Homo sapiens: one gene and its partners. The protein of the gene in region 1 interacts with the protein of each later gene in a pairwise test. Each region holds a gene or a part of one and is shown on either strand. Other genes may lie near its edges. The genes, in order: JRK, CCDC136, PDZD4, TPM4 and PRICKLE1.

Region 1 (6,122 bases):
GGGGTCAGGGTTTCAACATATAAACTTTGGGGGGGGACACAAACATGCAGTCCTTAACACCATCGTCATGGAGATGGAGGCCACAGACCTACCAACACCCATAACCTCAAGGGCACTGGTGGGGACAGAGGGGTCTTACCCAGCACTGCCATGTGGCAGAAGTTCTCCAACATTATGTCTCTGTAGAGGCCTCCAGGCAGCACTTAGGAATTGCCAACTCCTCTGGTGAGGTCACTACCACATCCTCAAGGCCCACAGTCTCCTGAAACAACAGAACTTTGCTGCTTCATGGAGGAGCGTCAGTATGTCCACACCATAGGGGTGTAGTCACTTCCCTCTGCCAGGGAGAATGGTGGAGGAAGAATGGATTCCTAGTGTATTTTTTCTCTTCAGAACTGACAGCCCATCAAGGTACAATGAAATAGAAAAAAGGCTGGCCAGGTGCCAAGTCCCAGCTCAAGCCTGGCAGCTCCTCCCACTGAGCCTCATGGTCACCCCAGAGGACAGGCCTTCCTTTCACACACATCAGAAATAGGGAACCCAAGACCTCGAGAGAGGAAATGGGCCCAGGGACATGCCTTGGCTTGGGGTGGCTTAGGACCAGGGCAAGACGCCTGACCCCAGAGCAGACCATGCTGACACTGGGCAACACATTCCCTGCTCTGGACCTCAGTTCCTTTGGCTACTAAGGAGGCCCAACGATCCTCGCCTGTGTGGGACGGGGCTACCTGCAGACATAGAGGGCCTTTGAGCACCTCGTAGCTTGCTTCCCAGCCAGCCTGGGTGTGGAAATGGCCGTGCTGACAGGCTCTCTGCGATAGGGCCCAGCCATGGCCAGTGGGCCTCCCACAATCTGCCCCTGGGTGCAGGGCCTTGAGCAGGGAGGCCATCGTGCTGCCTAAGAGACCAGGACCCAGCAGGGGCCATACCCAGATTCAGAGGCTCAGGACCACCACGGAACTGAAAGGAGGTTCAAGGCCTCAAACAAGAGTGGCCCCTAAAACAGTTGGTAAAGGAGTGTTTTCACCTCTGTTTACAGTTGAGTGCACTGCTCAAGGTCATGCAGCTGGTGAACAGCAGGGAGTGAGCAGTGGAGAACGTGAGGCTGGTCATTAGGAGCAGGTAGCCCTGGGTCTCCCTCTGCCCTCAGCAACTTCACACCTGCCCCTCCCTGGGCCCCAGTCTCATCCCTAAACAGGAGTGACCCCACCTCATTTCATGTCATCATCACTGCCCTGCAAGGGAAACAACAGATGTGCAAGGTCTGAGGGTCCATGTGTAGAAGCAGAGGCCAGAGCTGACACCACATGGGCAAAGGAGTGGGCGTGTGGGGCTGGGAGCTGGGGCTCATGTGGGAGGCTGGTGGCTGCCATGGCTGCAGCTCCTGGCCCTGCGGACAGCCAGGCCTGGGGTCTACAAGAGCTGGGCAGGGAAGAGGACAAACAAGGTCTCACAGGTCCATTCTCCCCAGCCTCCCAGTAGGCAGCTGAGTCCAACGCAGTGCCCGAGAGCTCAGCCCTTGTCAAGGAGAGTCCTCGAACCCAGAGGGGGCTGGGTAAGCAGCAGAAGTGCAGAAGCCCTGCCCAGGCCCTGCCTCCCAGGCCACCACCCACCCCTCACGGCTGCCACACCCACCAGCCCATGACTGTCCACATCCTGACCCCTACCTACCTCATGACCTCCCCGACCCTGATCTCCACACCTGACCCCAAAGCACATTTTGTTATTTTTTGTTTTTAGAGATTAGGTCTCTCACTCTGTCACCCAGGCTGGAGTGCAGAGGCCATAACTCACTGCAGCCTCAAACTCCTGGGCTTGGGGATCCTCCCGCCTCGGCCTCCTGAGTAGCTGGGGTTACAGGCACATGCCACCACACCTGGCTCATTTTCTTTTACTTTCTGTAGAGATGGGGTCTCCCTATGTTGCCCAGGCTGGTTTCAAACTCCTGAACTAAAGTGATCCTCCTGCCGTGGCCTTCCAGAGTACTGGGATTTCAGGCAGAAGCCACCACACCCGGATCCCCAATAAGCACATTTATGTGGGGCGTGAGGTGAGGTCCCTGAGGTGCAGTGTGGACGGGTCTTGATTTGTCCCAAGTTGTCGCTGCCCTGTGCCACAGCCTCCCAAGAATGGATGCAGTCTACACCTTCTGCAAACCCCTGCCTCAAACCGTGTCCCTCCACAAGCACATCCAGCCACTGGGACCCTGAACCTCCTCCAAATGGACTTTAACTGGGGACAACTGATGACAGTCCTCCAACCCCAGCGAGCTGGGGAAGCCGTGGGCAGGGGCTGCGACTTCCTTTCTTCCAATCAACTCCACCACTAGCAATCAATCACTTGGCCCACTGGATAAGAACAGTGGCCTGCGACGTCAGGGGCAGTCCAGGTGCTCTCCATCGCATGCTCAGCCATGGCTGAGCACGAATGAAGCATATGGAAGTCACGCACAGACAGGCCCAGGGCAAGGTCTGCTCTAGACCCTCCTATGCAGGAGACAGACAACTTCCAGGACAGCGTGCCTGGGGTGCTCGCAGAAGGCCAGGCTGGCACAGGCAGGACAGGTGTTCTGTAAACCAACCCCAACGTAGAAGGGGCTGAAAGACCACCTACCCATCCTAACCCCTGAATTCACCATGCCACCCTGAAAGTATGGCCTCTCCTGGGCATCCCGAGGGATGGGAGCTCCCAGAGTGGAGGCTGCCTGTCCCGAGTGAGGACACAGGAGCGCCCTCAGGCCTGAGCACTCAGGGGTGCCACCCCAAAGATGAAGGCAGTGGTGGAAAGAGGTTCTATTAGCAGGCTGGAAGCAGCCACAGAGGTCCCAAACCATATGACGCAGCACCTGCTACCCCACGAGCCACTGGAAAACTGAGGCTGCAACTTGCAGGGGCACTGTGAGAAGACAGGGAGTGGCTCCAGCCTGGTGCTCACAGATAAAACGCGGAGGCATTTAAACAGGACCAGAGACTTTCTCGCTCTGCTCTGGCAAGCTCCAGGGCTTCCCAGGGGCCTCAGCAGCCCCAGAAACAGAGTGAAGAGACACAGCCTCACAGAGCTGTGCTGTGGTGTCTGGTACAGCGGGGCTCCACCTGAGAGGGCTTGGGGAAAAAGATTCTGAGGCTAAAACATTCAACCACTTGAGCTTCTGAGACGGGTCAGGAAGTGAAAACAAAGTGCTCGGAGGACACGGCAGTCTCCATAAAGCGTTCTGGGGGACAGGACCGAGGCAAGAGGTATGCACCAGGCAGCTGGGCCCAGCAGCTCAGAGATGAGTACGCTCTGGGCTCCCTAAAAACCTCACTCCAGCAGCGAGCCCAGGTGAGGAGGGGCTGCAGGAGGAGCAGGGCCCGAGTCCCCTGGGTGGCACAAGGGATTCCAGCCACAAGGGCTGCACCTAGAGTCAGGCTCCAGGCCTTGCTGCAGTTGGTCTGGAAGAGGGGCACCCTGAGGACACAGCCACTCACTGGGGACAAGCGCCTACCCATCAGCCCAGCACAGTCAGCACAAGAGCAGATCAAGAACGGGAAGAGCTCAGGTCCTGAAGAGCTACAGTCTGACAGGGACAAGCCATGTCCAGAGGACTCAGGAGAGCCAGCCAGGAGCTCGGCCAGCTGGCCTGCCCATGCCCTCCCCAGCTCCACCCACCCAGGATGTCCTACTGTTTCAGAGCCCTCGGGACATGTTCTAACCTCCTGTGTTGCCTCAAGCAGCTGCAATCCAGCAGTCTTGGTTAAGAGGCTCTATTAGGAGTGACACGTGAGCCCAGAAATGGCACAAAGTACATGATGTGCAGAAGTTCCCCAGACAATGAAGCAAACAGTGCGGGTGACACCACAAAGACAATGGGACACAAATGGGAACTGGGACTGTCGTTCAGCACCGAGATCTTTAAAAACTATTTGGCTTTTATAATCTTCACACATGCATTCAAAGCAAGAAACACACACTTCCAGGACATAGATAGGGCTCTGTCAGCAATGACTTTTGCCCCTGTATCTACAGAGATGTGAAAGTACGAGAAACCACAGCGAGCCAAATCCTCTCCTTCATGAGAACAGAGGTTTCAGTGGAATCAACAGCAGACGCTGGAATGCAAACTACGTGCTGACTCGGCCAAATGATATGAATTTAAGAGAGGAAAAGAATTCAAGGGCAAAGCACTGAAAATAACATAGCAAGAAAAACCTATTTAGGCCGAGTGCTGTGGCTCACACCTGTAATCCCAGCACTTTAGAAGGATGAGGAAGGAGGATCGCTTGAGGCCAAGAGTTCAAGACCAGCCTGGGCAACACAGTGAGACCCTGTCTCTACAAAAAAAATAAAAAGGCGCGGTGGTGCGTGCCTCTAGTCCCAGCTACTCAGGAGGCTGGGGCGGGAGGATCACTCAAGCCAGGGAGGTCGAGGCTGCAGTGAGCTGGGATCACACCACTTCACTCCAGCCTGGTCAACAGAGTGAGACCCTGCCTCAAGAAAAGAAAAGGACAATGCACCTATTTTATGCTCGCTGAAAGACGAGGCTAATCACTGTGGACACAGGGCGTTCTGGAATCTCAGCTGCAGGCAGTGAGTGTTGCCCGTGAAATGGAGATGCCGCAAAGCAACTACAGACATGGAGAAAATAACCACATCCTCTTACAACCGCCTCTGTGAAAACTGACCAGGACAGACAACTCCTCCCCAAAAGTATTACTAACGTGCTAACAGCTGGGGATAAGAGCACACATACTGCTAGAAATCTAAGCAGCCTGTTTTACTGTTTTCAGTGACTTACGTGCAAACCTAAGACTAATCTCTGAATGTCTGATCAAGACGTATTCATGTAAAGGCCATAAGTATGAAATTCTGGGCAACATGGTACATTGGACTCTGAGCCAAAATGCCAAAATACCACACAGGGTCCGTGTCCTCTATCCGGGTGATGAGCAGGGCCTGGTCAGCCACTCCTACTTTCTTCCCAGAAAGGAACTCTACCAAGTCAACTCTCCGTGGGGCCCCCCAACATCTTGGGGCCAGAGCCCATGGGACAGGATCTGCGGGTAACAGAGGATGGTTCCAGAGTCATTCTGCTGAATGAGGCCACAACTGAAGTGAGATGTGCGGCCTGTTCAGCCGCTAGCAGGCCAAGAACTGAGTCCCAGCTCTCGGGCCATCGGACCTCAGGCAACCGTGCTCGGGGTCCACCCAACACGGGGATGGCCGCCAGCCCAGCAGATAGAGCCTTCTGAGACGAAGCCTGTCCAGGGGCGGTGGGCATGGCCTCCTGTCGGCCTGGAGGGCAACTTCTCTCCACGTGGACAGACTGACATCTCCACCCTCTGATACTGCAATGATCAGCCAGCGAACACGAGACCAGATCGGCTCAGCCTGGCCCCCATTCCAGCCAGGGTGCGGCTCTGGCTTGTTCTAGGCTAGGGTGGACCCTTCCAAAACATTTCCTCACTTTCGGATGACACGGCAAGTGATAAAATAAAACCTGTATTGACAGGAACCTCGGGCACAGACCGTCCTGGGCACCCGAGCCACACCCGTGGGCGACCCACTCCTGGAAGGGCTCTTGAGTGTCTGCACATGCCCTCCTGCCTCAGGTGGGGTCGGGGCACAGGACCATGCCACTCCAGGGTGTGGGGAGAAACAGGGCCAGTGGCCAGGGCAGGGCAGAGAAGCCATCAGTTGTCACCTGCTGTGGATGAGCAGGGCAAGGGAGACTGAGCTGTGGCCCCACAGCCACCAGGGCCCTCCTGGAGGGCTTCAACCTTGACCACAGCCCCGAGGGCACCACGCCGCCTCCTCACCTGCTGCTGGCTCCGGAACACGGCACGCAGCGCCCGCAGCTGCCCCACTTCCTGCGCACTGAAGCATGGCTGCCGCTCCGCAAAGCGCAGGACTGCGTCAAAGGCCACGGCCGCCTGCTCCCAGGCCACCTCCTCGCCCTCACCAGGATCTCCTCTGCCGTCCTGGTCAGCTTTCGGAGTCTTTTCTGAACTCCACACAACCTCTGCTGGCGACGTGGCAGCAGGGGGCCGTCCCCCTTCTGCCTCCCTTCCCGCTACCCCCCAGCTGGCGGCCTGGCGCTGGCGAAGCTGGCCCGGGCAGGAGGAGCCTTCCTTCACAAGCTCCAG
Region 2 (6,122 bases), on another chromosome or scaffold:
TGAAGCCCTCGGGATTTGCTAATGAATTCGATCAGGGGATAACAGAGACATGAAAGATGACTTTGCCTTGAGAAAATTGATGGAAGGTGGTGATGTTTATTGAATTGGGAAAGACTTGGCAAGGGGTAAGTTTTGGGGCTAGGGGAGCCATTTAAAACATGTTTTCCTCTGTTGAGTTTGAAGTAACTGTGGACATCCAAGTGAATATATTGAGGCAGTTGGATATATAAAGGCAGAACCAGGGAGAAAACAGGGCCGGAGATGTAAATTTGGAGTCATTAGCATATAATTGGCATTAGAATCCATGGGAAATAATGGTGCAGTCACATGGAGAGACACCAGAAGAGGAGAAAGGGTCCAGTCCCAGAGACACTCCAGTATTTAGAGGTCCAGTATAGAAGGAGAAATGAACAAAAGAGTAAAGTGAGAGGAACTCCTGGAGCATGTCATGCCCTGTAAGCCAGAGCAGAAAGTGCTTCAAGGAGACAGTGATCCACTGTGTCAGGTTGCTAAGTCAAGTGAGATGGTCTTGGATTTGGCAAGAGAGAGGACCCTGAGACATCTCAGTGCATGGAGGCACCGATTGGATTGGGTTTGGAGAGGAAATGGGAGATGAAGGTGAGTACCGATAACTCCAGTAGTCATTTTGAAGAGAAGCAGAGAAGTAAGGGAAATAGGGTCAAAAGATTATTTCTTTTCTTTTTTCAAAGGTAGGAAATGCTAGATCATGTATAATGAAAGAAAAGATCCAGTACAAAAAAAGGCCTTTGCCTGGAGAAGGAACGTTCCTCCATTCAAACGGGCGAAAAGTCAGAATTGAAGCAGAGATGCAGGCAGGAACTACCTGGGAAAATAGGGTTCTATTTTTTTTTTTTTTGAGACGGAGTCTCGCTGTGTCGCCCAGGCTGGAGTGCAGTGGCGTGATCTCGGCTCACTGCAAGCTCCGCCTCCCGGGTTCACGCCATTCTCCTGCCTCAGCCTCCCGAGTAGCTGAGACTACAGGCGCCCGCCACCACACCCGGCTAATTTTTTGTATTTTTAGTAGAGGCGGGGTTTCACTGTGTTAGCCAGGATGGTCTCGATCTCCTGACCTCATGATCCGCCCGCCTCTGCCTCCCAAAGTGCTGGGATTAAAGGCGTGAGCCACCGCGCCCGGCCGAAAATAGGGTTCCAGAGCGATTCTCTCCTCAGTAGAGTTTTTTGTTTGTTTTGAGACGAAGTCTTGCTCTGTCACCCAGGCTGGAGTGCAGTGGCGAGATCTTGGCCCACTGCAACCTCCTCCTCCTGGGTTGAAGCAATTCTTCTGCCTCAGCTTCGCGAGTAGCTGGGACTACAAATGCCAGCCACCACACCCGGCTAATTTTTGTATATTTAGTAGAGATGGGGTTTCGCCATTTTGGCCAGGCTGGTCTCCAACCCCTGATCTCAAGTGATCCACCAGCCTCAGCCTCCCAAAGTGCTGGGATTAAAGGTGTGAGCCACCGTGTTTGGCCGACAATACCATTTTTTTAGGGCCAGAAGCACCTAAGAGAGAGTTGAACCCTAACATCAAAAGCATATTAGGGAGGTGGAGGTTGGTCTGTTTCTCCAGAACACCCACCCCAGACTCTAGGGCCTTTGTCCTAATGGCCAGCTTCCTCTTGTGTCTCCCTAGCTAGACAGACCTCACTGTGCTGCTCAGTAGTGGGGGTAGAGCGGACTTTTCTTCCAATAGGAAGTCAGAGAATCTAACAGGAGATTCTTGGCCTTGGCACGCAGTTAAGGATCAGTTAATAGTTGTTGAATAGATCAAGGAGACGTAACAGCTAGGATCATTCTAGAACTGGAAAGATTGGCAAAAGACATGCCCATAGTTCCACATGTGAGCTCAGGGGAGCAGGGTAGATCTTCCCCTGAGATGCCCTCACCACTCAGCATCTATCTATGAAGCGTGTCCAAATTTGTCTTCTTTGAAAGTCTAGATTCTATTCTAATTTTTAAAAAATATCCAAACAGGGCCAGGTGTGGTGGCTCATGCCTGTAATCCCAGCACTTTGGGAAGCCAAGATGGATCGCCTGAGCCCAGGAGTTTGAGACCAGCCTGGGCAACAGAAAGAGACCCCCATCTCTACATTAAAAAAAAAAAAAAAAAAAAAAAAAGCAGGGCATGGTAGCCCATGCCTGTAGTCTCAGATATTAGGGATGCTGAGGAGGGAGGATTGCTTGAGCCCAGGAAGTCAAGGCTGCAGTGAGCCATGATCATGCCACTCCACTCCAGCCTGGGCAACAGAACAAGACTGTCTCAAAAACAGAAAGGAAAACCCCCCAAACCCCAAATGTTTAGTTCTGTACACATAAGAGATACTTAGCAAAAGTTTGTTGAATAGATGAACTGCTGCCTTACTTATGCATGAATACATCAAATATCTATTGAGCTTCGTTTTCAGGCACAATACTAGATCCTGGAGCTGTAATGGTGAGCAAACCAGATATGCTCTCTGCCTCGATAAAGCTTATAACCAAGTGAAGGGGAGACTTAAGTACACACACACATATAGCAAAGTACAAGGTTTTATGAGACCATTTAATAGAGGACTTCTCTTATTTTTTTTTGAGGAAGTGGAGGTACAGGCTAGAAAAGTTGACATCTGAGTGGTGAGTAGAATGAGCAGAAGTTGGGGGAAGGGGATGGGAGAATGTGCCTTGCAAAGGATTTATGGGAAAATCCTGACCCTCCCAACCCAATCCTCATTAATTCTCTAATCCTGGCCCTCAAATCCTAAATTCACTGTTGGTGTCAGTGCCTTTTACTCTCTCCACTTTTTCGTTCTGATCCCAGATGGGTACATGTGTCTAGAAACTCTGAGATGCTCCATAGATACAGAGAACTCTTAACTCATTATTTTGTAAATTAAAAAATAGAAAATATAGGCTTGTTCTGAAAATCCAAACAGCACAGATAGATATGATATGTAAAGTAAAAACCTTACCACATGTTATCCCATACCTCAGAAACAACTACTCATTATGGTTTGGGCATAGATCTTTCCAGGCCTTTTTCTATATGTTTGTCCATTTGTGTGTTATATACTATACATAAAATATTTTTTGCAAAAATTAGATCATAGCATATATTTTACAGCTCTTTTTCTTCAGTTAATATGGAAACTTCTTTGTTTTCACCATAGATCTGATACTTTCTTTTAAATGGCTGCATGATATTCTATTTAACTATCATCAGTTTATTTATTTATTATTGTTATTATTTTTCGAGACCGAGTCTCACTCTGTTGCCCAGGCTGGAGTGCAGTGGTGCGATCTTGGCTCACAGCAACCTCTGCCTCCCGGGCTCAAATGATTCTCCTGTCTCAGCCTCCCAAGTAGCTGGGATTACAGGGGCGTGCCACCACACCTGGCTTTCTTTTTTTTTTTTTTTTAGCGAAGACTGGGTTTCACCATGTTGGCCAGGCTGGTCTTGAACTCCTGACCTCAAGTGATCCACCTGCCTTGGCCTCCCAAAGTGCTGGGATTATAGGCGTGAGCCACTGCTCCCAGCCTATCATCAATTTAAACAATCCCTTATCGACTGACACTTAGATTATTATCCCGTGTTTGGTTATTATGCAGTGAACTTATATTTGAATTTGAGTTGTGAACTCTAAATGCACATTGTTTTAGGTCCAGTACTTACCACAGGTAGGTCATGGGAACTCTGAGGCTCTGTAATTTCTGAGCTCTCAGGATGAATAGGTGAAAATAGTCTGTATACATTTTTTGAGTCAGGGGATTTTTAGAAAGATTCAGGGCATCAAGAAAATACTATAAATGAAGTTAGGTCTTTAACTGTCAGGTGATTCCTTAGAAGCATGAAATACTTTTTGTTTACAGTAGACTAAGTGATTGTTTTGGTGCCAGGCCTCAAAATCTACTTTTCTATTGGACCTTACTACATAGAGTCACTCTCTTTTCCCTTCTTAGGTACTCCTTTTATTCCGTCCGGCATGATGCTACACTTCTCTGATGGGGTAGAGACAAGGTTTTCAGGACTTTGCAGACAAGAAATAAGTCTCCCTTTAATTTTGTGCCTCTAGAACATGGTAGGTTAGTTCACCTGCCCTCTTGATCATCTCAACCTTTGGACTTTGCAGGTGAGCTGCGTTCTCTACGGGAGGAGATTTCCCTGTTAGAGCATGAGAAAGAAAGCGAACTTAAGGAAATAGAACAGGAATTGCATTTGGCCCAGGCTGAGATCCAGAGTCTGCGGCAAGCAGCAGAGGATTCCGCAACTGAACATGAGAGTGACATAGCATCCCTGCAGGAGGATCTCTGCCGGATGCAGAATGAACTTGAAGACATGGAACGCATTCGGGGAGATTATGAGATGGAGATCGCCTCCCTCCGTGCAGAAATGGAAATGAAGAGCTCTGAACCATCCGGTAGTTTAGGTCTCTCAGATTACTCTGGGTTACAAGGTATGAGAGCCATCAAGTGGGTCAGTAAAGTCAAGCAGAGGAAAGGAGATAATATATAGGAAAATGGTAGAAGGTGGTGTTAGATCATGAATTGGGAATCTCTAGAAAAAACCTCCAGGTTGAATTCAAGACTGTAGGGGTCCAGGCGTGATGGCTCATGCCTGTAATCCCAGAACTTTGGGAGGCCAAGATGGGAGGATCACTCGAGCCCAGGCATTCATGAGCAGCCTGGGCAATGAAGTGAGACCCTATCTCTTTCTAAAAGAAAAATTTAAATAAAAATTTTAAAAAGACAGTAAAGGGGAAAAACCTACCCAGATGTTACATAACCAGTCCATGGTGGTGTAAGAAATAGCACCATGGAGAGGTACCCTGGGAATTCTTCAGAGAGTCATTGGGTCTTTGTTGATTTGACTATGGGAAAACCCTTCCTGGGAAAATTTCCAGCTCTAGGATGGGCAAAGAGGGACCTGTCACCTTGGGAAACTCTTCCTGCTGCCCTGGCATCATGGTGCTTTGCCTGGAATGCTTTATAGGGGGCCTCTGGCCCTGCTTCCAGGTGCAGGGATGCTAATTCTTAGGTTCCATTAGCTCTCCTCAAAATAGAAGCTTTGGGGGGCAACAAATCGGAACAAAAGACAGCTAGAGAAGAAAAGTTATTCTGAGTGATACATGAGGTACCCAAAAGCCTAGAGCCCTGCTTTCAGACAGTGAGTCTCCCAGCTAGTTGCTAGGATTCATGACATCAGAGAGTTTGCCTTTATTCTGAGGCTAGATTTATAATCTGAGTATAATGGAGGTCCTATATTTGGCCAGGTCAAGCAGAGGCAATCAACAAGGAATCAAAGAACTGCAAGTTTTTCCAGCTGTATCAAGCCTCTCAGAAGAGCCTTTAGATTAAATGGTGCTGGGAGAAGAAGGTTGGCACAGTGGGAAGGCTTGGGCTGGAGTCAAACAGACCTGAGTTCAGTATCTCAGCTCCACTAATTAGCAGGATGAACGTAGGAGGTCTGGTTATGGTCTTTCTCTGAGCCTGTTTCTATATCCAGGATATGAAATCAAAATTGGTTAATAAAACCTTATAGCTAGATGGGATCCTGAAACAGGAAAAGGACCTTAGGGAAAATGTAGAGAAATCCAAGTAAACTATGGAGTTTAGTTAATAGTAATGTATCAATATTTGATTCCTTAGTCATGACAGGTATATCATGGTAATGTAAGATGTTGACAATTAGGGAAATTGGGTGAGAACCCTCCCAGGAAACTCCGTACTACCTTTGCAACTTTTTTGTAAATCTAAAACTATTCTAAAATTCAAAGTTTATTTAAAGAAGAAAAAAACCTTACAGAGCTATTTTGGGAATTAAATGAAATGTGAAGCATGTTGAAATCACTTGCACACTTACCAAATCTGAGGCTGAAACTATCAAGTCTAATGCTTAGCGCATGGTTAGTTTTCATTAAAGATTAGTTTCCTTCCTCCCTTATATGGTAATCTGCAGTATTCTAAGGAATTCTGATTAGAATTAAGAGGAAACATTAGAAGTTACTTTTAGGGTGTTGAATCTTCCAGCAGGTAAGATAGGTCTTGTGTTCTAATTAGAGCAAGTTAGTGTTCTTTAAATATCAGTAGAATTAATGTTCTAAGAGACATAATTCTTTTTCAATTTT
Region 3 (6,122 bases), on another chromosome or scaffold:
CTGGAGTGCAATGGTACGATCTGGGCTCACCAAAACCTCCGCCTCCAGGGTTCAAGCGATTCTCCTGCCTCAGCCTCCCGAGTAGCTGGGATTACAGGCATGCGCCACCATGCCTGGCTAATTTTGTATTTTTAGTAGAGATGGGGTTTCTCCATGTTGGTCAGGCTGGTCTTGAACTCCCGACCTCAGGTGATCCACCCACACCGGCCTCCCAAAGTGCTGGGATTACAGGAGTGAGCCACCACGCCTGGCCCCAGGCTCCCCTTTTTGTAAGGGGGAGACCATCGCCAACATGTAGGCAACTGCGGGGGAGAGAAAGTACTGCTTGAGTGCGGGAGCGTGGCTGGCAGCCAGTGTCCCCTCTTCAGCGACGTCTTCCTCCAAACTGCTCTCCCACCCACCAAGCCAGGTGGCTTCTCTGGCTCCCTCCTGCTTGCATGGGGGCTTCCTGTGAGCAGGGATTTGGGTCTGGCATGGGCACTCTGCCTCCCCGCCTCACCAGCACCAGATGCTGCCAGCACATCCACGCTGGCCTCCACCCTTCCAGGGGAAAGCTGGACTCTCAGTCAACTCAGTGGTTCTGCCGCAGAAGCTGACTGGGGAAGAAGCAGGCTCTGAGAAAGTCCTTGTGGAGTGGAAGAACAGAGGGCTGGACACTGAATTCTGACTGCCATCTTCTGGACCAGGTCATCCTGTTTTGTGTCATTGTCCCAAGATTGTAGAATGCCCTTTCCCCTCTCATCTCGGGGTTCCTGAGGACTGTCCAGTCTGCTGAAATGAAATTCGATAGTGCCAGAGAGCAGATTCGTGGTTGCAGGGATGGGCAGAGGGGCATGAGGACACTTTTGGGGAAGATAGAAATGGCCACTGTCCTGACGGTGGTGATGGTTCCCCAGGTTCATGTATGACATATGAACACCTGCCCTTTGCACACTGAAGATGTGCAGGTTACCACCCAGCAACAGACCTCACCAAAGCTTTAGAACAGGAACTCCATGGCCACATGCACGCATCCTGGGGAGAAAGGTGTCCTTTCCTTCCTTCTACTTCAGGGGCCCTGCCAGAGAAGGCAGTGCAGTGTGGAGATAGGAATGGAGGCAGCCACCAACTGACAGCTGTGTGGCCAGGGGCAAGTCGCTGCATGGCCCACTGGCTCAGTGACTCAGTTTCCTCAACTGTGAAATGGCAGTGAAGAGTGCTTGCGTCCGAGGGCCATTGTGACAAGGAAAACAGATGGTGTGTCCCCCGGGATCTCACTGGGTGGAGGAGGGAGTTGCTGCCCTCGGGCCATTCAGTTGGTCATTAAGAAGTGGAAATTGGCTGGGTGCGGTGGCTCACGCCTGTAATCCCAGCACTTTGGGAGGCCGAGGCGGGTGGATCATGAGGTCAGGAGTTCGAGACCAGCCTGGCCAGCATGGTGAAACCCCATCTATACTAAAAATACAAAAAATTGACCAGGCGTGGTGGCTCACGCCTGTAATCCCAGCACTTTGGGAGGCTGAGGTGGGCGGATCACCTCAGGTCAGGAGTTCGAGACCAGCCTGACCAACATAGAGAAACCCCATCTCTACTAAAAATACAAAATTAGCCGGGCATGGTGACACATGCCTGTAATCCCAGGTACGCGGGAGGCTGAGGCAGGAGAATTGCTTGAACCCGGGAGGTGGAGGTTGTGGTGAGCTGAGATCACGCCATTGCACTCCAGCTTGGGCTCGAAACTCCATCTCAAAAAAAAATATATATATATATATTAGCTGGGCATCATGCACCTGTAGTCCCAGCTACTCGGGAGGCTGAGGCAGGAGAACTGCTTGAACTCAGCAGGTGGAGGTTGCATGAGCCAAGATCAAGCCACTGCACTCCAGCCTAGGTGACAGAACGAGACCCTGTCTCAAATAAATAAATTAATTAAATAAAAAATAATGAAAAAGGAAATTATATGGAGAAGGCCTTACATCTGGGTATGTCACAGTTAATGCCCAGTGACAGAAGAATGTCCAATATTATTCTGAGAATTTCTCTCAGGAAAGGGACCTCCAAGTTTTGAAGAAGTGTGATGTAGTACAATATTAGTTAGGACAGCCTGGGCAACATATTGAGACCTTGTCTCTACAAAAATAAAAAATTGCTCAGGCGTAGTGGCATGCGCCTCTAGTCCCAGCTTCTGGGGAGGCTGAGTGGGAGGATTGCTTGAACCCAGGAGTTGGAGGCTTCTGTGAGCCGTGATTGTACCACTGCACTCTAGCCTGGGCAATGGAGCCAGACTGTGTCTGGAAAAAAAAGAAAGAAAGACAGAGAGAAAGAGAGAGAGAGAGAGGGAGGGAGGGAGAGAGAGAGAGAGAGAGAAAGAAAAAACAGATGGACAGGGAACAAAGCGGAGGCATATGTGGTCATTTTGCACAGGAGTTGGGCCGGAGGAGGCGAGGCTGAGCAGCCTGGGGCTGGACAAGATGTCCTCCCTTTCAGTGCATTCTGCCTGTCCTCATGGCTGCTTGGAGCATTGAGAATGAAAAACGCTGCAGAGGGAATATTGCTTTGATTGTAAAACGCTGCAGAGGGAATATTGCTTTGATTGTTGCTAGATGTGAACTGTGCCCTTAGCCAGTCAGGTTAGCCTGAGGTGGGTGGGAGGATGGGTTTAGTTGCTGGGCCACGTGCCTGGAAAGCTGTGAATATGTACCCGAAGGTTGATCTTGAGAATGGCTTCAGGAAGTGGTTGGCTTTTCCTGTGCAAGGTGTGGGACACCCCTCTTTTCCTGTGTGTTTTTTTTTTTTTTTTTTTTGAGACAGAGTCTTGCTCTGTCACCCAGGCTAGAGTGCAGTGTTGTGATCTCGGCTCATTGCAGCCTCCGCCTCCTGGGTTCAAGCAATTCTGCCTCAGCCTCCCGAGTAGCTGGGATTACAGGCACCTGCCACCACGCCTGGCTAATTTTTGTATTTTTAGTAAAGACAGGGTTTCATCATGTTGGCCAGTCTGGTCTCAAACTCCTGACCTCTAGTGATCCGCCTGCCTCGGCCTCCCAAAATGCTGGGATTACAGGCGTGAGCCACCGCGCCCGGCCTCCTTTCTGCTTCTGAGCCAGGACTATGGAGGTGTCTGAGAGGCCGCCGCTCTCCCGGAAAGGTGGGGGCCAGGTGGATTGATGAGACTTCAGCAGACCCTGGGCTTCGGGGAGGGAAGGAGAAGTGAGGGGAAAGAAAGATGCCCTCATGCAGAAGGCCTTCGTTGAGGTCTGCCCTGGTTCCTCCAGGGCGCGCTCTGAGTCAGTACAGCGCCACCCTCCACCCGAAGTCCTTGTTAAGGTGCACTTTCTGACTGAGCCACTAGCATGGGGCCTGGGATTCTGCACTTCTCACAAGCTCCCAGGTGATGTGGATCCCACTGGCTGTGAGTAGCCAGGGCCTTGGGTAGGGACCGGGAGTAGATCTATGGTAGCCCCAAACCACATTAACATGGGTGGTGAAGTGAGGTGTTGTTTTTTTTGTTTGTTTGTTTTGTTTTTTTTTTTTACAAATAGAGGGTAAAAATTGTTTACAAATAGAGGGTAAAAAAACACACATAGAGGGTAAATCAGAACATCCAGGAGTCGTTGCCTACGTGAGGGCTTTACAGGACATAACTTGTTCTTCCCTGCCATGTGCAGCTAACTGACCCCCTTCCCTGTCACCGGCACCCCTACCGGTATACATGTCTCTCATGGACGCCCAGACACCCCTCCCCCGACTAACTGCTCAAAGGCCTTTGAGATGAAGCCCTCCCATGTTTCTGTCTCTCCTGCCCCCAGGCAGAAAGGGTGGGCACAGAGTTATGGAAGCGGGTGGTGTGGCTTGCCCAGGAGGCCACAGTTGGGGGCGTGGGCAGCCATGCTACTTGCCGGGCCTGTCACCTCTTTGTCCCTGCTAGAATTCTAACATGTTGGTGGAGACATTTTGCAGCCACCAATGCAGTAATTAATTCAGGCAAAAATCATCACTGGATGCCAAAACCATTAGATGTAAGGTCGTTGGGGACAGAATATTCACAAAGTCTCCAAATATTACCCCAAATTACCTGTGAATCAGGAAGGGAAACTGCGTCTTTACAGAGGAGAGATCTGGCAGCTGCCACCTGGACCATGTGATCAAACAGCCTCCCCAACAGTGGGGCAGCCTGACCCTGCCAGCCGCCAGATGCAGGGCTGGGGAGGAGACATACAGCATCTCCTGCAAGGTGCTCTTGTCAAAACGCTCAGCCTGAATCTCACCGCGGGAATGAATCAGGCAAATTCAGACTCTGGCGCATTCTATAAGGACTGGTCTCTTCCAAGAAGTCATTCCCATTAAAGTAAAAAATATATATATTTTTTTCTAGATTAGAGAGGAGACATAATAACTAGAGACCTAACAACCGAATGTAATATGTGTGCTTCTTGATTGAATCCTAGATTTTTTGTTTGTTTGTTTTGTTTTTGAGATGGAGTCTCTCTGTGTCACCCAGGCTGGAGTGTGATGGTGTGATCTCAGCTCACTTCAACCTCTGCTTCCTGGGTTCAATCAATTCTCCTGCCTCAGCCTCCCAAGTAGCTGGGACCATAGGCTGCACCACCACGCCTCGCTTTTTTTTTTTTTTTTTTTTTTTTTGAGATGGAGTCTTGCTCTGTCGCCCAGGCTGGAGTGCAGTGGCACGATCTCGGCTCACTGCAACCTCCTCCGCCACCCGGGTTCAAGTGATTCTCCTGCCTCAGCCTCCCTAGTAGCTGGAACTACAGGTGCAAGCCACCACGCCCGGCTAATTTTTGTATTTTTAGTAGAGACGGGGTTTCACCATATTGGCCATGCTGGTCTCGAACTCCTGACCTTGTGATCTGCCCGCCTCAGCCTCCCAAAGTGCTGGGATTACAGGCATGAGCCATTGTGCCCAGCCTCAAATCCTAGATTTTTAAAAAAAGCTATAAGGGTGTTAGCGGGACAGCTGGGGAGATGTGAGGCTGGCCCATTGTATGAGTGCGGAATTCCGTGCTAAGGGTGTTGTGGTTCCACGGAGAATGGGACTGATGGCATCTTGCTTTCAAATGCTTCTGCACATGTGTGTGTAGAAACCCCGAGAGCAGGTGTGGGGAATCTGCAGATGTTCCCACATGCTTGTGGGCGGACAATTTTCAAAATCCCGAGCTGGGGAAACATGAATGGGGACTTTGCTGGGTCACTGAGTGGGTGAATGTAGTGAGCCTGCGGCTTCTCCTTTCTCCTCTGATGCTCTACTCGTTGGGAGATCCCCCGATGCCTGACTTGGCCTGGAAGCTACAGTCACAACTGCTTCCAAGGTGTCCTGGATACTCCAGACGGCAGAGCTGAGAGCCAGCAGGCAGGTCAGAGCTCGGCCCCGGGCAGAGGATAACTTCCTGTCTCTGTCCTTCCCCAGCTTGTTTCCTACTCTACAGCAGTGGGGTAAGGGGAGTCCGAAGGTGGCAGCCCCCCCACCTCCGTGGCAGCCACGGGGGCCCCTGGAAGTGATGTGGCTTCACCTCCCATCCCGCGCGTTGCCAGTGAGAGTGAAAGGGGTCGCAGGCGCCGTGTGACAAGCACTTGGGATTGCGAGTCTCCCAGGCCACAACTGTTTTCTTAGCCTCTCCGGCCTCTCTTCTCGGCTTCCCAGAGATTCCTGATCAGCAAGAGGGCGTCGCGCCCCACCCGGCTGTGCGCCTGCCACCGCTGGGTGCAGGAGGGTGCCTGGGGCAGAGCCTGGAAACAGAGCTCAGCCTCCGACGGGGTTGGCGGGGCGGGCGGGCAGGAGTCCTGCCAATACAGCCACCAGCGTGGCGGCGCCGGGACGAGTGTGGTCCGCCCTGCTCCCGCAGCCGCAGCCACCCCGCCGCCGTCGCGGCGCGCTCTTTGTCTGCGGCTCCGGGCTCAGGGGGCGGGGCGAGCGCGCCTGGGGCTCCGCCCTCTCCGCCTAGGGCGCCCCGCTTCCCGCGTCCCCTAAGGCCCGCCAGTCCCTTGCCCAGCGGGAGATCGCCGCCCCACAGCGACTGCCCGTGGGGCCGACTTCGCGTCATGCCTGCCTCGCCTGCCCGGTGTTGCCCCCTCCCCTGTCCCTGTGTCCCCCCTCCCTTGCCCGCATGTCCCCCTCATGCGGGGAAAGC
Region 4 (6,122 bases), on another chromosome or scaffold:
CTGGTAGTCCCAGCCACTCAAGGGACTGAGGTGGGAGAATCACCTGATCCCAGGAAGGCAAGGTTGCAGTGAGCTATGATTACACCACTACACTCCAGCCTGGGCAACAGAGTGAGAACCTGTCTCAAGAAAAAAAATAAATAAATACACAACGTCTTGCTCTGTCACCCAGGCTGGAGAGCAGTGGTGCAATCACGACTCACCGCAGCCTTGAACTCCTGGGCTCAAGCGATCCTCCTACCTCAGCAACATTGCAAAACCCCCACCTCCACAAAAAATTTTTTTTTAGTTTAGCTGGGTGCAGTGGTGCACACCTATAGTCCCAGCTACTCAGGAGGCCGAGGCAACAGGATTGCTTGAGCCTGAGAGGACAAGGCTGCCGTGAGCTCTCAGGGCACCACTGCACTCCAACCTGGGCAACAGAGTGAGACACCATCTCTCAAAATAAAAGAAAAAGAAAGGGGGCACAGACTCTGGAGTCAGACTGCCAAGGGCTGAGCCTCAGCTCTACCACTTACCAGCTCTGTAACCTTAAGTTACTTACCCTCTCTCTATGCCTTAGTTTCTTCATTTGTAAAATGTGGATAATTTACCTGCTCCATAGGGCAGTTGTGAAAGTGAAGGCACTTAGAAAAGTGCCTGGTAGTAAAGATGAAGGGAGGCTGGGCGCGGTGGCTCACACCTGTAATCCCAGCACTCTGGGAGGTCAAGGCGGGCAGATCACTTGAGGTCAGGAGTTCCAGACCAGCCTGGCCAACATGGCGAAACCCCCTCTCTACTAAAAATATAAAAGTTAGCCGGTCACGGTGGTGCATGCCTATAGTCCCGGCTATGCTGGAGGCTGAGACAGGAGAATTGCTTGAACCCAGGAGATGGAGGCTGCAGTGAGCTGAGATCACACTACTGCACTCCAGCCTGGGTGACAGAGCGAGACTCCATCTCAAAAAAAAAAAAAAAAACCAAGATGAAGGAAATGTGTGCACAGAGTTCCATCTTTGCAGTGTGTTACAGTGCTCAGTAGATTCAGAGACTCATTTAGATGAGAGATGGGACTAGGGGTGGTGTCTCACGCAATTAGCCAGACATGGTGACGGGTGCCTGTAATTCCAGCTACTCAGGAGGCTGAGGCAGGAGAATCGCTTGAACCCGGGAGGTGGAGGTTGCAGTGAGCTGAGATCGTGCCACTGCACTCCAGCCTGGATGACAGAGCGAGACTCCATCTGAAAGAAAAGATAGATGAGAGGTGGGTGGAGGGGTGTGAGTGAACGGCCGTCCTGATGAGATTGCTCCTTGCAGAGGAATGAAGGTGATAGAAAACCGGGCCATGAAGGATGAGGAGAAGATGGAGATTCAGGAGATGCAGCTCAAAGAGGCCAAGCACATTGCGGAAGAGGCTGACCGCAAATACGAGGAGGTGAGTGGGGCTGGCAGATGGCGCAGCAGCAGGAAGTGGGAGGAAATGCATCTGCTGAGATAGGGAGGACACCGGGGCCAACGAAAGGAAGCTCTCGGTTAGGTCAGCTGTCCTCCTGCGTGAACATATGTTTGTCCAGAGACAACCACTTGGCTAGGAAACTATCTCCCACGATGCCAGAAAGTGCTGCGGACGCTTGTCTAACGTAATGGGAAAACCGAATGATCAGCTCACTTGTGTCGTTAGCTGGGAGTTTTGGCACAGTTGGGCAAAAATGGAGGATTGTGGTCCCAAGCCATGGAGTTTCAGACCATGCAAGCTCAGGCCCTCCTTTGCCTCCCTCGATGGCTCGGCTCTTCCCTCCCGCCTCTTGTCTGCCTCGCTCCTCAGGCTTGAGGAAGAGAATCAGGATTTCCTCCAGGCCCCAGGATGGCTCTTTCAGTTGAAGCGCCAGCAAAAGGCCAGGCGCGGTGGCTCGTACCTGTAACCCCAGCACTTCGACCGAGGCGGGAGGATCACCTGAGGCCAGGAGTTTGAGACCAGCCTGGGCAACATAGTGAGACCCCATTTCTAAAAATAATAATAATAATAATTAGCTGGGTGTGGTGGCATGCACCTGTAGTCCCAGCTACTTGGGAGGCTGAGGCAGGAGGATCGCTTGAACCTGGGAAGTCAAGGCTGCAGTGAGCTCTGACCACGCCACTGCACTCCAGCCTTGGAGACAGAGCAAGACCCTCTGTCAAAAACATAAAAGGGCTGGGCATGGTGGCTCACGCCGGTAATCCCAGCACTTTGGGAGGCCAAGGCAGGCAGATCACCTGAGGTCAGGAGTTCATGACCAGCCTGGCCAACGTGGTGAAACCCTGTCTCTACAAAAAATACAAAAATTAGCCGGGCATGGTCGTGCATGCCTGTAAGCCCAGCTATTTGGAAGGCTGAGACAGGAGATTCACTTGAACCCAGGAGGCAGAGGTTGCAGTGAGTCAAGGTTGAGCCACTGCATTTCAGCCTGGGTGATGGAGCGAGACTCTGTCTCAAAAGAATAAAAAAATAAAAAAGAGGCCAGGTGTGGTGGCTCATGCCTATAATCCCAGCACTCTGGGAGGCCGAGGTAGGTGGATCAGGAGGTCAGGAATTCGAGACCAGCCTGGCCACTACGGTGAAACCCCATCTCGACTGAAAATACAAAAATTAGCTGGGCGTGGTGGCACGCGCCTGTAGTCCCAGCTACTTGGAAGGCTGAGGCAGGAGAATCGCTTGAACCCAGGAGGTGGAGGTTGCAGTGAGCCGAGACTGTGCCACTGCACTCCAGCCTGGGCAACAGAGGGAGACTCCGTCCCCCTGCAAAAAAAAGAAACACCAGAAAAACCCATGTTGCAGCTGGTCTAGGGGTCTGGGTGGGGCATCATTGGGGGCTGTCTGCAGTGGATGGGAGAGGACACGGCTGGTGGGGATCGGGCTCAGCTGGGCCTTTCTGTCTCTGCAGGTAGCTCGTAAGCTGGTCATCCTGGAGGGTGAGCTGGAGAGGGCAGAGGAGCGTGCGGAGGTGTCTGAACTGTGAGTGGCAGAACAGGACTGAGCGAGGCTGGCTCGATTCCTGGGGCGGAGTGGGAAGGAGCTGGCTGTGTTGGGAATTGGCTCTGACCGGGGTCTCTGCTCAAGTGGACGGGCGTCAGGGGCTCATGGCTCATCTTTTCTCTTGGCTTCTGTGACAAAGAGGTGGTGACTTGTTCTTACTGCCATGGGAAGCACTGCCCACGTGTTGACCCTTTCTGCAAAGATATGAGGAAATAGGAGTGAGACAGGAGGCAGCAGGGAAGCCCAGAAGTCCCATTTTCCCAGAGAGGATATCTCAGGGGGCTGTGCCATCTTAACAGAACACTGACCTGCTCCAGAAGGCAGGCTCCCCCGGTCAGTATGTAAATGCTTTTGCTCCTGTCAGTGTTTGGCCGTGACACATTCCTGGCGGGAAGGTGAGAAGCTTAACCAGAATCCCACAAGCAAGCACCGAAAAACAAAACACCTGTCCTCTTGGCCCCGGGTGAGGAATTCAGCCCCACAGAGCATCCGGGAGTGCTGAGAGAGATCTGGTTTCACAAATCCACTCCGGGCTTCCTTCCCGGAGTGTCCCCTGCAAACTCCCATTGCTCTCTGCCCGCCTTCTGCCCTCAGTCCCATTCTTACACCTTCCGGAGTCGGCCTCATCAATCATAGATTTCACAAGTCCTTGCAGCCTTACCCTTGGCAAAAGACCAGGAGTGTTTTCCAAGCCCTCCAAATACTCTTCGGGCGCACCTCGCCTCTGCCTGGTATGATAAGCCTTTGATAAGCCCATAGTATCACACTGCAGAAAAATCCATTAACATTTTCTCCCCACATTCCTTCTGCCCCCCACCGGGGGAGCTGTGTAGGTTTCTCCTTTGGAAAATTTATTGTTGGGGCGATTGCTATTATTGCCGGCTGTAAGGGAAGATAAGACACAAAAATCCTTTGTCTTTGTGCAGAAAATGTGGTGACCTGGAAGAAGAACTCAAGAATGTTACTAACAATCTGAAATCTCTGGAGGCTGCATCTGAAAAGGTAGGTGGTTGGCTTGAGCTGGAGGGTGGCTTGCTGGACTTTGTTCTTTTCTTCTCCCGAGGGATGCAGGAGCCTGTCAGGTTATGGGGAATCTGCCCTTTATTTAACAGTAGCGTTGGTGCCTGGCAGCCAGGGTTTTTCCCCTACAGAAAGAGCTGGATTTCTCCTGCACACTCTTGAGTCCTCTTCCATGGGGTCTGAGCACCATCTTTGATCTCCATCTCAGGAGGATAGAGATAGAACATGAGGCTCTTCTTAGCGAGATCTGAGCATAGTTGTATAAATAAATACAGAGCCTGCCTCTCACCTGATTCCCCTGGTTCCTCCAGAAATACCATCTCAAAGGTATAGCAATGATCAGAGGTGGAATTGGGCTTTTTAGTTTGAAACAGCACCCAAAGCAGTTGCTACGTGGCAGCTACGTCGGGAACAAAGGACACACTTCCACGGCCGAACCCCACTGAATTTCCCAGCCTCTTCCTCATTCTTGCTCCTGCTTTTGCAGTTTCACAGACATTCTTTGTTCTCCCATCACCTCCACCCCCCACTTTTTTTTTTTTTTTTTTGAGACAGAGCTTCGCTCTGTTGCCCAGGCTGGAATTCAGTGGCATGATCATAGTTCATTGCAGCCTTGAACTCCCAGGCTCAAGCGATCCTCCCACCTCAGCCACCACCTGCTATTCACTCAACTGGGTGTGGCTTTCCTTTTGCTTGATAAACCCCTATTCAGCCTTTTTTTTTCTTTTCTTTTTTTTTGAGACAGGGTCTCACTCTGTCACCCAGGCTGGAGTGAAGTGGCGTGATCTCAGCTTACTGCAGCCTTCGACTCCCAAGTTCAAGCAATTCTCCCACCTCAGCCTCCCGATTACACGCTAATTTTTATAATTTTTGGTAGAGATGAGGTTTCACCACATTGGCCAGGCTGGTCTCGAACTCCTGATCTCAAGTGATCTGCCCGCCTCGCCCTCCCAAAGTGCTGGGATTACAGGCATGACCCACTGCACCTGGCCTAGAGATGAGATCTTGCTCTGTTGCTTAGGCTGGAAGTGTAGTGGCGTGATCATAGCTCACTGCAGGCCCCAAACTCCTGGGCTTAAATAATCCTATCACCTCAGCTTCCTGAGTAGCTAGGACTTGCAGGCATGTGCCACTACTCCAAAACTGTATTTTTTTTTTTTTTTTTATAGAGCACAGTCTATGTTGCCTAGGCTGGTCTTAAACTCCTGGCCTCAAGTGATCCTCCCACCTTAGCCTCCCAAAGTGCTGGGATTACAGGCGTGGGCCACCGTGCCTGGCTAATTTTTCTAGTTTTTGGTAGAGACAAGGTTTCATCATGTTGGCCAGGCTGGTCTTGAACTCCTGGCCTCAAGTGATCCTCCCACCTTGGCCTCCCAAAGTGCTGGGATTACTTTGGGAGGCCGCCGAGCCTGGCCTCCTGTTCATCCTTTGAGCTTCTGCTTAAACATCACTTCTGAGAGTCCTTCTCTGATTTCTCATCTAGGTTAGGTATTTCTCTGCTGTGTAGCCCTGTCTATACTTTTGCTGGCATTATGATTTCTTACATTTATTATAGTTACTCCATTAATTGCATGCCTTCCTTGCTAGATTGTAAGTTGTAAGGACAGGAACCATGTCATCTTGTTCAGAGTTGTGTCCCTAGTACTAGCATTGTGCCTGGCATATATCTGTAGTGTGTGTGTGTAATTTTTTTTTTTTTTTTTTTTTTAGTAGAGATGGTGTTTCACCATGTTGCCCAGGCTGATCTCAAACTCCTGGCCTCGAGTGATCCACCTGCCTCTGTCTCCCATATGTGCCAGCCCTGGCATATATCTGATACTAGGATGTGTAAGGAATGAATCCAGTTGGTGTGTGTATGCCAGACACTGCCCCGGGCCAGGGGGATAGATGTAACACCACTAATACCTCAGCTGCTTTGTTTTGTTTTGTTTTGAGATGGAGCCTTGCTCTGTCGCCCAGGCTGGAGTGCAGAGGCACGATCTCAGCTCACTGCAACCTCCACCTCCTAGGCTCAAGCAATTCTCCTGCCTCAGCCTCCTGAGTAACTGGGAATACAGGCGCACACACCACGCCCAGCTAATTTTTGTATTTTTAGTAGAGACGGAGTTTC
Region 5 (6,122 bases), on another chromosome or scaffold:
GACCTGAAACCAGAGCAAAGTGTTCGGGATTCGATGGATTCTTTGGCATTGTCCAATATCACAGGTACGTAATCTAGGGATTATGGGGTATTTGAAAAAAGGAGCTACTAAAAAGTGTATTCAAAAAATTGCAATTCAAGCCAGGCGCAGTGGCTCATGCCTATAATTCCAGCACTATGGGAGGCTGAGGTGGGCAGATCATTTGAGGTCAGGAGTTCGAGACCAGCCCAGGCAACATGGCGAAACCGCGGCTCTACTAAAAATACAAAAATTAGCTGGGCATGGGCCTGTGATCCCAGCTACTCGGGAGGCTGAGGCAAGAGAATTGCTTGAACCCAGGAGGCAGAGGTTGTAGTGAGCCAAGATTGCGCCACTGCACTCCAGCCTGGGCAACAGAGCAAGACTCCATCTCAAAAAAAAAAAAAATTGCAATTCAGCATGAGTAGGAGTTGTGTGTTATTCAAAACCATGGATCAAGGGAAGGAAGGAACCTCACTTAAATACCAAACACTAGCAAAACAAACACATGTGTGAGGTGAGTGCATGTGCATAAAATATATTTACAGTGCAGTCTTTAGGGATAGGTTTTATTACCCTGTTTTGAAGAGAAGGAAATTGATTGGAGGAAGGAGTGTACAACTGGATTGTGTCTGAAAGATATTGTACGCTTGAATTATTCTGTATGTATTCTAAGATACCAAAATTGGCCCACACACTTTACAAGCTCTTTTTTTTTTTGAGGTGGAGTTTCGCCCTTGTCGCCCAGGATGGAGTGCAATGGCGCAGTCTCACCTCACTGCAACCTCCATCTCCCGGGTTCAAGTGATTCTTCTGCCTCTGCCTCCCCAGTAGCTGGGATTACAGGTGCATACCACCATACCTGGCTAATTTTTGTATTTTTAGTAGAGATGGGGTTTCGCCATATTGGCCAGGCTGGTCTCGAACTCCTGACCTCAGGTGATCCACCCGCCTCAGCCTCCCAAAGTGCTGGGATTATAGGCATGAGCCACCACGCCTGGCCACAAGCTCATTTTTTTTTTTAAACATCTTCCTGAATTTCCCTGTGACAGTAGCTCAAAAACAGCTGAATACTTTTTATTTAGATTCTAAAATATTACTGTAATGTTTTCTTTTTTTTCCTAGTTTTTTGTTTTGTTTTGAGATGGAGTTTCACTCTTGTCACCCAGGTTGGGGTGCAATGACGCGATATCAGCTCACTATAACCTCTGCCTCTCAGGTTCCTGAGTTTAAGCGATTCTCCTGCCTCAGCCTCATGAGTAGCTGGGATTATAGGCGCCTGCCACCACGCCCAGCTAATTTTTGTGAGACAGGCTGGTCTCAAACTCCTGACCTCAGGTGATCCACCTGCCTTGGCCTCCCAAAGTGCTGGGATTACAGGTGTGAGCCACTGCCCCTGGCCTACTTTAATGTTTTCAAAGCACAGTCATACCAGTTATCCACATTTTATCTTTAAAATGACCCTGAGCTATATAGAGTGGATGATATGATTGCATTTCACAAATGAGGAAACTTGAATTACCAAAAGGCTAAATGCCAAACATTACATAGGTTCTAAAGGCAAGATTAGGCCTAGAACCTAGGACATTATGCAAATTATTTGCAACAAGTCTTTGGATTATAGAAATGTTGCTGTTGCATGGCTAGTTTTATAGTCAAACTACTGACATCCAGCCCTTTGATGAAGGTAATGCTTCTGTAATGTAGACAGGAAAGGCTTAGTAGCTGCTTCCTGCCAGGAATAACTTGTGCCAGACACTGCAGTGACAAGGAAGGGTACGGCAAAGCTACCCCCCCGGCTTCTGTGGACTTGTCAAAGATAAGGCCGGCAATAAAGGGGAGTTGAGGAAGAATGGTGGGTGAGACTGAGTAAGCACCTTTTGTCTGCCAGGCCCAGTGCTAGGAGTTTTAAATTTAATATCAGAAATAGACATAATTTGGCCAGGTGTGGTAGCTCACACCTGCAGTCCCAGCACTTTGGGAGGCCCAAAGCAGGTGGATCACCTGAAGTCAGGAGTTCGAGACCAGCCTGGCCAACATAGCAAAACCCTGTCTCTACTAAAAATACGAAAATTAGCCAGGCATGGTGGCATGTGCCTGTAATTTCAGCTACTCGGGAGGCTGAGGCAGGAGAATCACTTGAACCTGGGAGGCGGAGGTTGCAGTGAGCCGAGATCATACCACTGCACTCCAGCCTGAGTGACAGAGCAAGACTCTGTCTCAAAAAAAATAAATAAAAGAATTAAACATAACTTGGTACACATTTAAGTGTTAGGGGCTGACATTCCTTGACAATAATAAGCTGAAAAATAGGCCCCCTTTAAAAAGTATGAAGTTATATAGGGCCGGGCGCGGTGGCTCACACCTGTAATCCCAGCACTTTGGGAGACCGAGGCGGGCAGATCACGAGGTCAGGAGATCAAGACCATCCTGGCTAACACAGTGAAACCCCGTCTCTACTAAAAATACAACAAATTAGCCAGGCGTGGTGGCGCATGCCTGTAATCCCAGCTACTCGGGAGGCTGAGGTGAGAGAATGGCATGAACCCAGGAGGCGGAGCTTGCAGTGAGCTGAGATGGTGCCACTGCACTCCAGCCTGGGCGACAGAGCGAGACTCCATCTCAAAAAAAAATAAGTACGAAGTTATGTAGTCTCCAGTTGACAACAGTATCACTTTGTCTATAGGGCTATATGTATTTATCTTAACATGCCTGGGTCCTATTATATCAAAAGAGATCAATATCTGTTTTGTTAAATGTTTCAATAGAAGATTAATCTGGAAGTGGCATATTTTACACGTTGAAGGCAGAAAAGACTGGATGAAGATCTAGGTCAGGGGTTGAGCAAACCTTTTCTATAATGGGCTCGATAGCCCTTTTTAGGCCTACGGTCTCTGGTGTGACTACTTAGCTCTGCCACTGTAGAAAGCAGCTATAAACAATATGTAAACAAATAGGTGTGGCTGTTCCAATAAAACTTGATACACAAACAAGCTGTTGAGCTGTAGTTTGCTGACCACTAGCCTCAGTATAAGATGAGGAAGACTAGCTCATGATGGAGACCAAGGAGGGACTGATGTGAAAGATCTCCAAATGAAGCAGTGTGGCTTTAATGAATTGAGGAGCAGAAGCTTCTACATCTTATGTTAATGAATGAACAGGCTGCTGTGAAGAGCTCTTAAAGTTTTGCTGCTCATGCCATGTGCCGTAACTACTTAACTAATCTTTGACTCCAGGCTTATAAGAGAACCTGTGCCCCAGGCCAGGTGCAGTGGCTCATACCTGTAAACCCAGCACTGTGGGAGGCCGAGGTGGGTGGATCACCTGAGGTCGGGAGTTCGAGACCAGCCTGACCAACATGGAGAAACCCCGTCTTTACTAAAAATACAAAAGTAGCCAGGTGTGGTGGCACATGCCTGTAATCCCAGCTACTCAGGAGGTTGAGGCAGGAAAACTGCTTGAACCTGGGAGGTGGAGATTGTGGTGTGCCGAGATAGCGCCATTGCACTCCAGCCCGGGCAACTAGAGCAAAACTCTGTCTCAAAACAAAACAAAAAAACAAAACAAAAAAGGCTGTGCCCACCCCTTATAACAATAACTGCATTTATACCACTTCTCAATTGGCATAGATACATGTTGGCTTTCCCTATGGGTTTTAATCAAATATTGAGATTGGAAATTTTCTTTGAAATATTTCCTTTCAGTAGCTTACTTTTAAGTACTGTCGAATATTAGGATGATTGAGAAGCACATCTTGTTTTGGCCTCTCTTCTAGGGGCTTCGGTGGATGGAGAAAACAAGCCAAGGCCATCATTGTATTCTCTGCAAAATTTTGAGGAGATGGAAACAGAAGATTGTGAGAAGATGAGCAATATGGGAACTTTGAACTCTTCCATGCTGCACAGGAGTGCAGAGTCCTTAAAGAGTCTAAGTTCAGAGTTGTGTCCAGAGAAAATCCTGCCTGAAGAGAAGCCAGTACATCTGCCAGTGCTCAGAAGGTCCAAGTCTCAATCCAGACCCCAGCAGGTCAAGTTTTCTGATGATGTCATTGACAATGGGAACTATGACATTGAAATCCGGCAGCCTCCGATGAGTGAAAGGACTCGGAGACGCGTCTACAATTTTGAAGAGAGGGGATCCAGGTCTCATCACCACCGCCGCCGGAGAAGTAGAAAGTCCCGCTCCGACAATGCCCTGAATCTTGTTACAGAAAGAAAATACTCTCCCAAGGACAGACTGCGGCTGTACACCCCCGATAACTATGAGAAATTTATACAGAATAAAAGTGCCCGGGAGATCCAAGCATACATCCAGAATGCTGATCTCTACGGACAGTACGCCCATGCCACTTCCGATTATGGCCTGCAGAACCCAGGAATGAATCGGTTTCTGGGACTCTACGGCGAGGATGATGATTCCTGGTGTTCTTCCTCCTCCTCCTCTTCCGACTCGGAAGAAGAAGGATATTTTCTTGGACAACCAATCCCTCAACCCCGGCCACAGAGATTTGCCTACTATACAGATGACCTTTCTAGTCCACCATCTGCACTTCCCACCCCTCAGTTTGGTCAGAGGACAACAAAATCCAAGAAGAAAAAGGGACACAAGGGCAAAAATTGTATTATTTCTTAACCAAGTAGTGATGCAGAGCATTTGTTTAAAACTTAGCCATTAACCGTCTGAATCGTTTCCTTTTCTTCCGTAGGAAAGTTGTGAAAATAGTTTAAAGTGCTTTCTTTGCCCATGTAAATGAGAACTCAACTGCTGTTTACAGTGTCAGATTAACATTTGAAAGGTGTGATTTCTCCAATTTACCCTCTTTGGATGGTGCCAGGTGGACGTGACATCTCGTGCCTGTCCGGTGCGGGTGCGTTACAGATGGACGTAGCTGCTTTGGTTTTCCAGTCCTCAAGGGAATACTGAAGATGCTGACTGAAGGGGATTGGATGTTGATTTTAGAAGATGGAGAACTCCAGCCACCTTTGTAAAGCACTAGTGTTTGTCATTTATGTAAGTCAGGTCGGCTCAGGTCTTGATAGTCCGTCTTGGTGTGAGGCATGCCTGTCACGATGACCTAGCTAACACTGTGCATCTTATTGTGAGGCCAGCTTGTCCCCTCGAACCCTCTTTGGCCAGGTAAACATTGTATTGTATCAGCGCCAGCTACAGATTGAAAAAAAAAAACAAAAAACATTGCTATTTATAACTTAGTATTTCATAGACTTAAGTGTATTCCTAATTTAACGGTGCAAATATTAATGTATATACTGTACAGTTCAGATTTTAAAGCTGATATTTTTATATCCCTGAATTGTAAGCCGTTTGTTACGCTGCAGTGCTAGATTTGCCAGGGAACCAGAATTTATGGATGAACTGATTGCTTATATTTTAGTCAGGGTTTATAAATGTAGATGGTCAAATTTACATTGCCTAGTGATGGAAAATTCAACTTTTTTTGATTTTTTTTTCCAATATTAAAAAAGGCTCTGTATGCATGGTGGGGCTATGTAAGTACTCTTTAAAACTATGGCCCTATTAATCTTACAAGTGTTACTTATGGGTCAAGCAATGTAAACTGTATAAATGTAAAAACAACCCCTCCACACACATAACCCCTGGAATATATGGTAAAAACAAGTAGAAGCTGTTTCAGCGAGTGGGTTTTTTCCCCCTGCCTGCGGGGGGTGCCTTTCTCATTTTCAGCAAGGTGATGATTATCTCATGGGAAATGACAAAGATCTGCTTTTGTGGCAGAGGACTTTGTAGATTTGTTATTTTAAGAGAGGTTATTCCTTTTTATTCCTTCCCTCCCACTAATTTGTTGGCCTTTAACAGCAATTTTGAAAACTGGGTCTTCTGGTTATGTTTTTGTTTTAAAATCTTTAAATTAGAGGATGCTGTGCCATTGAGTACTGTAAGTTAATATGAGGTTCTGGTTCAAGGAAAACTTACGTTGGATCTGAACCAATGAGCAGATATTTTGATATGTGCCACTCTTGCATATACATCTCAGTCCTAACTAAAGGTTCTAGTGGCATCCAGGACCTTTAGGGAGGCATTTAATAAACACTTAATAAATAACAAAACTACCTTTCTGAATATAA

What was found.
Region 2: the proteins of JRK (region 1) and CCDC136 interact in a two-hybrid assay, tested with the Homo sapiens proteins (one large-scale study listed by BioGRID).
Region 3: the proteins of JRK (region 1) and PDZD4 interact in a two-hybrid assay, tested with the Homo sapiens proteins (one large-scale study listed by BioGRID).
Region 4: the proteins of JRK (region 1) and TPM4 interact in binary tests that used the Homo sapiens proteins (3 or more experiments, as listed by UniProt).
Region 5: the proteins of JRK (region 1) and PRICKLE1 interact in binary tests that used the Homo sapiens proteins (3 or more experiments, as listed by UniProt).

Annotation. Positions count from the first base shown.
Region 1 is NC_000008.11:142,658,683-142,664,804, forward strand, and holds part of JRK (jerky protein homolog), read right to left. Parts: coding exon 5,670-6,122; 3' UTR 263-5,669; coding exon of another isoform or gene 173-262; 3' UTR 1-172. UniProt on the Homo sapiens protein: May bind DNA.
Region 2 is NC_000007.14:128,797,059-128,803,180, forward strand, and holds part of CCDC136 (coiled-coil domain-containing protein 136), read left to right. Parts: intron 1-4,127; coding exon 4,128-4,451; intron 4,452-6,122. UniProt on the Homo sapiens protein: May play a role in acrosome formation in spermatogenesis and in fertilization.
Region 3 is NC_000023.11:153,818,848-153,824,969, reverse strand, and holds part of PDZD4 (PDZ domain-containing protein 4), read left to right. Parts: intron 1-6,122.
Region 4 is NC_000019.10:16,085,127-16,091,248, forward strand, and holds part of TPM4 (tropomyosin alpha-4 chain), read left to right. Parts: intron 1-1,296; coding exon 1,297-1,414; intron 1,415-2,900; coding exon 2,901-2,971; intron 2,972-3,918; coding exon 3,919-3,994; intron 3,995-6,122. UniProt on the Homo sapiens protein: Binds to actin filaments in muscle and non-muscle cells. Plays a central role, in association with the troponin complex, in the calcium dependent regulation of vertebrate striated muscle contraction.
Region 5 is NC_000012.12:42,458,337-42,464,458, reverse strand, and holds part of PRICKLE1 (prickle-like protein 1), read left to right. Parts: coding exon 1-64; intron 65-3,793; coding exon 3,794-4,650; 3' UTR 4,651-6,122. UniProt on the Homo sapiens protein: Involved in the planar cell polarity pathway that controls convergent extension during gastrulation and neural tube closure.